Homo sapiens: one gene and its partners. Changing the gene in region 1 together with any one later gene gives a genetic interaction. Each region holds a gene or a part of one and is shown on either strand. Other genes may lie near its edges.

What was found.
Region 2: changes in BMF (region 1) and BIK together harm fitness more than expected from each alone (negative genetic interaction), as found in Homo sapiens cells (one large-scale study listed by BioGRID).
Region 3: changes in BMF (region 1) and BAD together harm fitness more than expected from each alone (negative genetic interaction), as found in Homo sapiens cells (one large-scale study listed by BioGRID).

What each region holds. Positions count from the first base shown.
Region 1 is NC_000015.10:40,089,546-40,091,941, forward strand, and holds part of BMF (bcl-2-modifying factor), read right to left. Parts: intron 2,344-2,396; coding exon 2,242-2,343; 3' UTR 1-2,241. UniProt on the Homo sapiens protein: May play a role in apoptosis. Isoform 1 seems to be the main initiator.
Region 2 is NC_000022.11:43,109,540-43,113,638, reverse strand, and holds the start of BIK (bcl-2-interacting killer), read right to left. Parts: upstream 2,890-4,099; 5' UTR 2,836-2,889; intron 1-2,835.
Region 3 is NC_000011.10:64,278,121-64,281,771, reverse strand, and holds part of BAD (bcl2-associated agonist of cell death), read left to right. Parts: intron 1-3,651. UniProt on the Homo sapiens protein: Promotes cell death. Successfully competes for the binding to Bcl-X(L), Bcl-2 and Bcl-W, thereby affecting the level of heterodimerization of these proteins with BAX. Can reverse the death repressor activity of Bcl-X(L), but not that of Bcl-2.

The DNA of each region.
Region 1 (2,396 bases):
GGGCTCAGTTCTCAGGCCACAGGGCACCCAGCCTGGGCCTGGCAAGGTCTCTGAAGCTGATGGCCTTGCCCCAGCACCAAGATCTAAATCATTTTCTCTCTCACTGAACTCAGGTGGAGAGTCTGCCAAAAGGGGTGAATAGTGGCTGCTGTAAATAATCCCGGTTTTTTGGTGTGTGCCACTGAAGCATACGGCAGCAGGCTGCCTGTCACCACCTTGATCCAGAGAGGGGAGAACAACGTATGTCCCATACACATCATAAAATGGTATGGAGACCCACAGGGAAGGCTGAATTTCACAATGGTCAGTGTGTCCCAGAGCCAGTCTTCAAGCTGGTCCCCGGCTCCTTCTCTGCAAAGCAGGAACCCGTCTTCTTAGCAGACAAATCATGGTACACACCCTGAGAATAGAATTCTGACCAAGAAGAGGTAATATCCAGAATATCTGAGCAGAACAAAACAAAGGCTTACATGCACAGTTTGAGGCCCTTCTCCTCCAGGGTGCTGTGAGCCCATATGGCACCTTTGCAAATTAGGAAAGGCACCCCTTCTTCTTGGGAGAAGTAGCCCCACACCAGGGCACGCACACAGCTTAGTGAGCAGAACACAAGCTGAATTCCAGCCTCCATTAGCTGCAGGTGCCCTTGTGCAGTGAACAACCTGCACAACTGTACATCCAGAAGATCAATGTCTCCTTCAATAGTACTGAAGACCTCCTCTCCTCAGAACTGGAAGACTTGGGCTTGTTCAGATTTGTGAGTCTACTCTAGACTCCTCCTATTTCCTTGGGTAGCCCTGAGGTCTTCTTTGTCCAGGGAAGCCGTCTTTCCTTTGGGCCTTACTTCACTGTTAGCACCAATGTTGTCTTTTCTCACATATGCAAAAGTTATAATTTAGTTTCTAGCGTCTGGTTAACAGATTCCCTGTGCCTGCTATCGGAGCTGCCACACCGGCTGCTTTAGATCCTCTCCATAAGTGCCGCAGCAGGGAGAGAAGGGAAGACGTGCACAGGCAGCTGTGATCCTGCTGGGTTCCAGAGCATGCCCTTCTGGCCTAGCTGGAAGCTGGAGGAAGATAGGAAATGTGTACCCAGCTTTGACGGTTCCCCACTCTAATCGTTATCTGTTACTCTAAAAGTCACTTAGCTGGCAAAGCCACTGTCCTGGCTTCTTCTGTATCCCACTAGGTATGAAAAAGGACTGGGGATAAGGGGGAAGAGGTATGTTGTTTCCAAGGAAACCAAGGGGTCTGGGGTCCCCTACGGCTGACTCTCATGGTAGGGTGGCCACCATATTTTCCGGCCCCACTGCAAACTTGCCCCCGATGTCCCTCAGTGCCGATGTTGGGGGTGGAATGCGGTCTGTCGGTGGGGTCTTTTGAAAGAAGAGCTGACAAAGGCACAGGCTGCCAGCAGCAACATGCTGACTGGCTATTCGGCTCATCCGTGGCTGACACCCAGCTGGTCCCAGGCCGCCAGTGGTGGCAGTGGCTCTGTACCTCAGGACCAATCCTGGGGCCTCCAAGTGGGACCAAGTCAGTTTTGAGGCCTAGCCAGAAGTTTGGTTCATTTTGCGACATGTTTGAGGGGTCCTTAGAGAAACTCAACCCTCCCTGAGGTCTGCTGGAGGTGGCAGGAGCTGGCCAGGAATCCTTGAGCCCATGGGGCAGGTACTGGCTGAGAAGTAAGAACCCAGTCAGATGTGGAGCTGGCCGGCCAGCCTAGTGAAGCTGCTATCCTCAAGTGGAAAGCCCCTGGCCGAAGCCCTGCTGGGTTAAAGCAATGTGACCATCAGGATCACGGCCCCCATCCACAGTGGAAGGCTCATAGGTTTGGTGGAACTGGGAGTCTAATCCACTCTCGATTTCTTAACTGAGTTCCTCTGGAAAAACCACAGTCCACTTCCCAGAGAACATCACTAACGGATCATCTTCGACAACTGGTAGATTCCTCAGTCGAAGAATCTACTTGTCAGAGCCCTTGGGAATTCTCACCATCACAGACACATCAGCCTCTCCTTCAACAGTGTTTGACAAAGGCCCCCATTCCAGGTCAAGGGCCTGACAGAGAAAGAAGGTCCCGCTTGAGTATGTTGTATGTACACTCAGAGAGAAATTAAAAAAAATTAAAACACAAAATAACAACAAAAAAACAATTTCACAAGACACAGTGTCAGTCCTGCCCGATGTCCTTCCTGTTCCAGACGGTGTTCCTGGTGCCCCATGTGAAGAGGGCAGCCCACCCTCACCTAGGGCCTGCCCCGTTCCTGTTCTCTTCTCCATTCAAAGCAAGGTTGTGCAGGAAGAGGAGGATCTGCCACCACACACGATTTTGGTTCTGCTGGTGCTGAAGGGAGAAAAAAAAAAAAGACCAACATAACTCCCAAACGCAATCTTAGA
Region 2 (4,099 bases), on another chromosome or scaffold:
CAGAAATGGGGGAAAAAAAAAGTACACGGTTATGAGTAGTCTCTGGTTTATCTGCAGCTCTGTGACACAAGACGTAATTTTTTTTTTTTTGAGATGGAGTCTCACGTTAGCCCAGGCTGAGTGCAGTGGCACCATCTCTGCTCACTGCAATCTCCGCCTCCTGGGTTCAAGCAATTCTCCCGCCTTAGCCTCCCAAAGTGCTGGGATTACAGGCAAGTCAAATGTGTAAGAATCTTGAGCCGGGTGAGGTGGCTCACGCCTGTATTCCCAGCCATTGCACTCCAGCCTGGGCAACAAGAGCGAAACTCCGTCTCAAAAAAACAAACAAACTTACAATAACTAACATGTATGCAGCCTCTCTATCCAGCCATAGAGTACCCAAGCTGTAACAGACACTGGGGATCTACCATTTGATGCTTTTTTAAATTTTCTTTTGACAGAGAGTCTCCCTATGTGGCCCAGGCTGGAGTGCCATGGTGTGATCTCCGCTCAGTGCAACCTCTGCCTCCCAGATTCAAGCAGTTCTCCTGCCTCAGCCTCCCAAGTAGCTGGGATTACAGACACACGCCACCACGACCGGCTAATTTTTGCATTTTTAAAAGAGACTGGTTTTGCCATGTTGGCCAGGCTCGTCTCACAACTCCTGACCTCAGGTGATCCATCTCCCTCGGCCTCCCAAAGTGCTAGGATTACAAATGTGAGCCACCATGCCCAGCCTAATGCTCCTTTTTTTGAGACAGGGTCTCACTCTGTCTCCCAGGCTAGAGTGCAGTGGCATGATCAGGGTTCACTGCAGCCTCAACCCCTCCAAGCTCAGGTAGGCCTCTGAACTCAGCCTCCTGCGTAGCTAGGACCAGAGGCACATGCCACCATGCCCGGTTAATTTTTTGTATTTTTGGTAGAGACAGGGTTTTACCATGTTACCCAGTCTGGTCTAGCCCAGTCTAGTCTCCTGAGCTCAAGCAATCCTCCTGCCTCAGCCTCCCAAAGTGCTAGGATTACAGGCACGAGTCAAATGTGTGAGAATCTTAGTCTTAACATCCTTAAGACAATTAAAAAAAAAAAAAGGGCCAGGCATAGGGGCTCACGTCTGTAATCCCAGCACCTTGGGAGGCTGAGGCAGGAGTATTTAAACACTCAAGCCGGGCGGGGTGGGTCACACCTGTAATCCCAGCACTTTGGGAGGCTGAGGCGGGTGGATCGCCTGAGGTCAGGAGTTCGAGACTAGCTTGGCCAACATGGTGAAACCCCATCTCTACTAAAAATACAAAAAATTAGCTGGGCCTCGTGGTAGGCGCCTGTAATCCCAGCTACTAGGAGGCTGAGGCAGGAGAACCGTTTGAACCCAGGAGGCCGAGGTTGCAGTTAGCCGAGACGGCGCCATTGCACTCCAGCCTGGGCAACAAGAGCGAAGCTCTGTTTCAAAAAAAAACAAAAAGAAACAAAAAACACCCAAACTGTGCCATTCCTGAGAACTTATTCCAAAGGCGTGCCCAAATTAAGTAGAAATCGGGGTGAGTCTTAACTCCAGGGAGGCTACTAACTTGAGAGGGGCTTTCACCTGGCCAGAAACCTCAGGGATACATTTTGCAGAGTGAACAGAACAAACTGAGGTTCAGAGAGATGGAGTGGCCCTTCCGAGGCCACAGGGCTGGAGAGTGGAAAGAGGTTTTGGCTTGGGTTCCATAAAGGGCCCTTGGCTTCTAGCTAGACAACCCTGGCATTTCTGTGCCTCCTGGGACTGAAATCTCTGTTTCTCCACCTGGAAGATGAGGCCTCCTGCTCCCAGGGGCAGACAGATGTTAAGAACTTCCCGGCGCTAGTGCCCACCAGACTGCGCTCCTCCTAATGCGGGGACATGAGGCTGACACCAATGCTCCCTGGGAAGCTCGGGCTCCCAGACCACAGTAAACACTGCGTTAAAACAGCAACAAAAATGTTACAATAGTAAGAGCTACAACAGTAACATCAACAACCACGTCCTACCCCACGAGTGGCTCATTCTAGCAAAATTGACAATGAAGGGCTTGAAAGCGATCGCATTTAGGAGGCCAGAGCCCAGACGACGACCAGCTCCGAACCCCACAAGCCTTGTCGTGACCGCGCCCCGCAGGCGGGGGGCCCCCTCGCGGGTCACCCGCAGGGGCGCACCTCCAATTTACCAAACAAGGTCGCATGCCCCAGCCGGGCTCTAGTCCCCGCCCAGTCTGGGGCGCACCTGTGCAGGGCGCGTGGGCAAGCGAGGGCGGGCGGCTGCGCGCCGCTCCGTGTGCACGTTCCTGTTCCGGACTTTCTGGGCGTCCCGTTACGAAGCCTTTCCTCGGCCCTTCCTCAGGTGCGCAGCGCCTCCGGGAGCCGGTCCCGGCGGCACCGGGCACGACGCCATCTTCCCTCTTTTAAGGGCACCGGGGCTGTGCGGCCGCGGCCGTGGGCTGGCGTTGCCGCGCTACGGTCTGGCCGGGTCCGCACGACCCCAGAGTTCGGAGCCGGGTGCCCGGAAGCCGCACTGGAGGACTGTGCGGCGGCGATGGGGCGTCCAGCCGTCGCGGCGAGACGCAGAGGGACCACCCCATTGCACAGGCGCGGAGACTGAGGCCCGCAGGGGCCGCGCCTGGCACGATCGCCCGTCGGGGACCTGGAGCCCCGGACAGAGAGGGTACGTTTCGGAGCCGGAGTCCCGAGACGTCGCCCCGCCAGCGACTTGCTGGAGCGGTAAAACCTGGGCACGGCTCCCCACACTTCCAGCCGCTCGGCACCCGGGCCGCGGCCTGGGCGCTAACCGCCGGGCTCGAGCTGGGCGGAGCAGCGGGCGGCAGCAGGGTCGGGGGCACTCACCTGGCGGCGGCGATGCTGGCAGCGTCTGTAAGCCACCCGGGAGGCTTCGTGTCTGCGGCCCGGCTGCCGGCGCGGGACCTAATAGGCCCGGGCGCCCCGCCCCTCCCGCCCCGCCCGGGTCCCGCCCCTCCCCGGGAGCGGCCTCTCGCACCCCGAGCGCGGAATCCCGGACTGGGGTCTGAATGGCATTGGCAACAGAACCGCTACAAGTGCAGCCCGTTGGCTTGTTTACAGCCTCTCTGCCCCCTGCTGTTCTGCAAGCTTGTTTTGTCCCGTGCGTCGCTGTTTCCCCTGCGCCCAGCACGGGCGTGCACTCAGGGGTTTCCATCAATATCGGGGGGATCGATCCATTGACAGAATCTGGCCCTTTACACGGATGGCCTCCGTTCGAGCTCAAAGTACTCCTCGGTGCTTTTTTTCACGATCATTTTACCCACGTGGAAACCGAGGCTCCAAGAGGACGAAATGACTTAAATGACAGCGTGAAGCCAGCGTTCAAAGACGTGTGCTCCTTAGGCTGGCAGCTTTGGGATTTAGGTGTTTTAAAGCCTATTTCACAAATATGAAAACCGAGGTTCACATTTGGTTAGCAGCAGCATCCAGTGATCCATACCCGAAGCCAGGGGGCTGCCCCTCCACTGCCGCCCGTCCGCAGCCTTCCAGCTGCATGACACACCCACTGCCTTCCCCCTCCCGTCGGGGCTCCGGGTCCGCGAGAGGCGGGCGGGACTGGGAGGGATTGGGGGCAGGGGGCTCACGTGCAGACCTGGTGAGACGGACCCCACAGCGCCTGGCGGGGCGAACAGAGAAATCAGAAAGCTTCCAGGCGGGGTGGGCGGGTGGGCAGCCTGCTACGCGGGGATGGGTAGGACCTAACTCCAGCCCTGGGGTATATTGGGGGTGGGAGAAGGCAGAGCGCTCCTGGAATAACAAAGTAACAATTGTCCTGGGCACGGCAAAGCTTGTTTACTTCTGTCTTGATCCCCTCAGAGATTAGGGGAGGGGCAGGGACAGGGGTTCCCCTCCCCCAGCTCTGTCGTTTGCTACCTGTTGGGTACCCTCACTCTGTTCTTCCCACCTCTAGGGTAATTACTTCCCCTTCAATGTTCTCATCTGTGAAATGGACAACAGCACCTACCAAGAGCTGGGCTGTTGGGAGGAACAGAGGAGGTAAAGTGTGATAAAGTCTTCAGAGCCCCTCCCGCCTTCCGGGCTCTGGACCTTCTTTGCTTTTGTGGGGTTTTTTTGTTTGTTTTTGTTTTTG
Region 3 (3,651 bases), on another chromosome or scaffold:
TCCAGCCTGGCGACAGAGTGAGACTCATCTCAAAAAAAAGAGTTAAGAGAATCCGGAGTCACAGGGGCGGGGGGAGTGATGGTAGCAGAGGTGGTCAGCACTCACCTTGGTGAGAAGCACCACTGGAGCCAAGGCCACAGGGATGATGGGAAGAGAGTTCCAGGCAGAGAGAAGGGCAGATGGTAAGGCCTCGAGGGCAACACCTGCTCCTGGCTAGGGTGGGCCTAGGGGAGGGGGTTTAGGAAAGGGTATTTGGAGACCTAAAGTTGAAGGTCATTCTAAGGACTCTGGCATTGCCTTTGAGTAAAAACCTGGAAAGGATTTGAGCAGAGGCAGCATGGTCAGATTTAGACATTCAGAGAGTCACCAGGGAGGTGGTGAGAAGTAGCTGATCCCTGGATTTATTTTTAAAGCAGAACTGGCAGGATCTGCTGATGGACTGGATGTGGGGTGCGAGGGAAAGAGAGGAGTCAGGATGATGCCAAGGAATTTTAAAAAAACTATTAGGCTGGGCGCGGTGGCTCACGCCTATAATCCCAGCACTTTGGTAGTTCGAGGTGGGCAGATCATGAGGTCAGGAGATAGAGACCATTCTGGCTAACACGGTGAACCCCGTCTCCACTAAAAATACAAAAAATTCTCTGGGCGTGGTGGTGGGCGCCTGTAGTCCCAGCTACTCTGGAGGCTGAGGCAGGAGAATGGCGTGAGCCCGGGAGGCGGAGCTTGCAGTGAGCAGAGATTGCACCACTGCACTCCAGCCTGGGTGACAGAGCAAGATTCCGTCTCAAAAAAAAAATTATTATTGGCCGGGCGTGGTGGCTCACACCTGTAATCCCAGCACATCGGGAGGCTGAGGCAGGCAGATCACTTGAGGTCAGGAGTTCAAGAACAGCCTGGCCAACTTGGTGAAATCCTGTCTCTACTACAAATACACAAATTAGCTGGATGTGGTGGTGGGCGCCTGTAATCCCAGCTACCTGAGAGGCTGAGGCAGGAGAATCACTTGAACCCAGGAGGTGGAGGTCGCAGTGAGCTGAAATCCTGCCACTGCACTCCAGCCTGGGTGACAGAGCAAGAGTCCGTCTCAAAAAACAAAAAATAAATAAAAATAAAATAAATTAGGCCAGGCGCGGTGGCTCACGCCTGTAATCCCAGCACTTTGGGAGGCCGAGGCGGGCGGATCACGAGGTCAGGAGATCAAGACCATCCTGGCTAACACGGTGAAACCCCGTCTCTACTAAAAATACAAAAAATTAGCCGGGCGTGGTGGTGGGTGCCTATAGTCCCAGCTACTCGGGAGGCTGAGGCAGGAGAATGGCATGAACCCGGGAGGCAGAGCTTGCAGTGAGCCGAGATGGTGCCACTGCACTCCAGCCTGGGCGACAGAGCAAGACTCCGTCTCAAAAAAAAAAATTATTATTATTATTATTATTATTATTTTATTTTATTTTTGACATGGAGTCTTGCTCTGTCGCCCAGGCTGGAGTGCAGTGGCACCATCTCAGCTCACTGCAAGCTCTGCCTCCCGGGTTCACGCCATTCTCCTGCCTCAGCCTCCAGAGTAGCTCGGACTACAGCCTCCCGCCACCATGCCCAGCTAATTTTTTTGTGTGTTTTTAGTAGAGATGGGGTTTCACCATGTTAGCCAGGATGGTCTCGATCTCCTGACCTTGTGATCCGCCCGCCTTGGCCTCCCAAAGTGCTGGGATTACAGGCGTGAGCCACCGCGCCTGGCCAAATTATTATTAATTTTAGAGACAAGGTCTTGCTATGTTGGCCAGGCTGGTCTTGAGCTCCTGGCCCCAAGTGATCCTCCCACCTTGGCCTCACAAAGTGCTGGGATTACAGGCATGAGCCACAGTGCCCAGCCAACACCAAGGAATCTGGCTTGAGCACCCGGTAGGATGAAGTTGCTTTTAATGGAGAAGAAACACTGAAGGGTGAGGGAGGATCTGGAGGCTACCCTAGAGGGTGGGATAGAGGGGGATTTTTTTTTTTTTTTTTTTTTTGAGATAGAGTCTTACTCTGTCACCCAGGCTGGAGTGCAGTGGCACGATCTCGGCTCACTGCAACTTCCACCTCCTGGGTTCATGCCATTCTCCTGCCTGAGCCTCCCCAGTAGCTGGGATTACAGGCATGCACCATGCCCAGCTAATTTTTGTGTTTTTAGTGGAGACGGGGGTTTCACCATGTTGGCCAGGCTGGTCTCGAATTCCTGACCTCGTGATCCACCCGCCTCAGCCTCCCAAAATGCTGGGATTACAGGCATGAGCCACCGCGTCTGGCCGCTAGAGGTGGCTTTTAAGCATCTGGTGGGATTTTTAGCAGGGTGCTAGTGGGAGCTGGCAGGGACTTGGAGTCTGAACCAGAGTTGTGCTTGTCTCAGTCCAGTTAGGGGTAGGGGCTTCAGGTGTGTGCAAAGGAAGGAATGGTAGATGTGGGGTCCAAGCTGGCTGAGCTTCAGGGAAGGGAGCAAGCCCTGGGAAGCCGCAGCATCGTTGGAGTTGGGGTCCCGGGGGCATGATCCACACAGGTTGGGTCAGCTGGTGGGAAGCTTGGGATGGAGTTATTTGATGGTGACAAGGCCTAGGTTATGTCCCTGGGAATGAGTCTGAGGGGAGAGTGGGACAAGATCATGGTAGAAGGAGTAGCAAGGTACAGAAAGGAGACAGGGTGCTGGTGGAGTGGCAGAGGACAGGAGTAACATTCTGCACAGGCCAGGGACGACACCTCCCCCCAGCCCCAGCTGCAGACCCGTAGGAAAGAGGGCTGCGGGAGAAGACAGCTGCCAGGTGAGGACAGAGCTGGATTTCTTAACCTTTTGATTTAGTTTTCAGTGTCTCCAAAAGCAAGTGGTTTCCCAGAAAAGATCAGCAAGTGCCAGTGCCCCGCCAGAGCCACGGGGCCTCTGCCCTCTCTACCTGCGCAGAGCAACTCACACTTGGTTCGGTCACTCCTCATAGTCCCTGCCACCAGGCCCCCCTGCTGGATGGCTGAGGTGTCCCCAGGGCAGGGACTGCAGCCACCTTGTGCTGTGACAGCCCACACAGCCCAGTGTCTGAAACAGGTGTGGACAGTGGAGAGGCAGAAAGAAGCAGCCCAGTGCTAGCCCCTGGGCCAGACTGCAGGGTTCAAACGTGGCTCTACCCTTCCTAGCAGGTTGAGCTTGAGCAGGTTAATTAACTCCATCTGCCTGAGTTTCCTCATCTGTAAACGGGAATAGAACTAGTCCCACCTCGCAGGGCTGTGGCGAGGACCTGATGAGTTAATATAGGAAAAGTGCTTGGAAACAGTGCCTGGCGCAGAGGAGGGGCTAAGTGTTTGCGGCTCTTATTATTAGAACTGCCATTGTTATTATTTATGTATATATATATTTATATATAAATATATATATATAATTTTTTTTTCCAAGATGGAGCCTCACTCTGTCGCCCAGGCTGGAGTGCAGTGGTGCAATCTCGCCTCGCAGCAACCTCTACCTCCCAGGTTCAAGTGATTTTCTTGCCTTTATGTACATTCTTGGCTTTATATATTTATAAAGCCTCAAATTTCTGGGCTCCAGCCATCCTCCCACCTCAGCTTCCTAAGTAGCTGGGACTACAGGCGCACGCCACCATGCCTGGCTAATTTTTTTATTTTAATTTTTGTAGA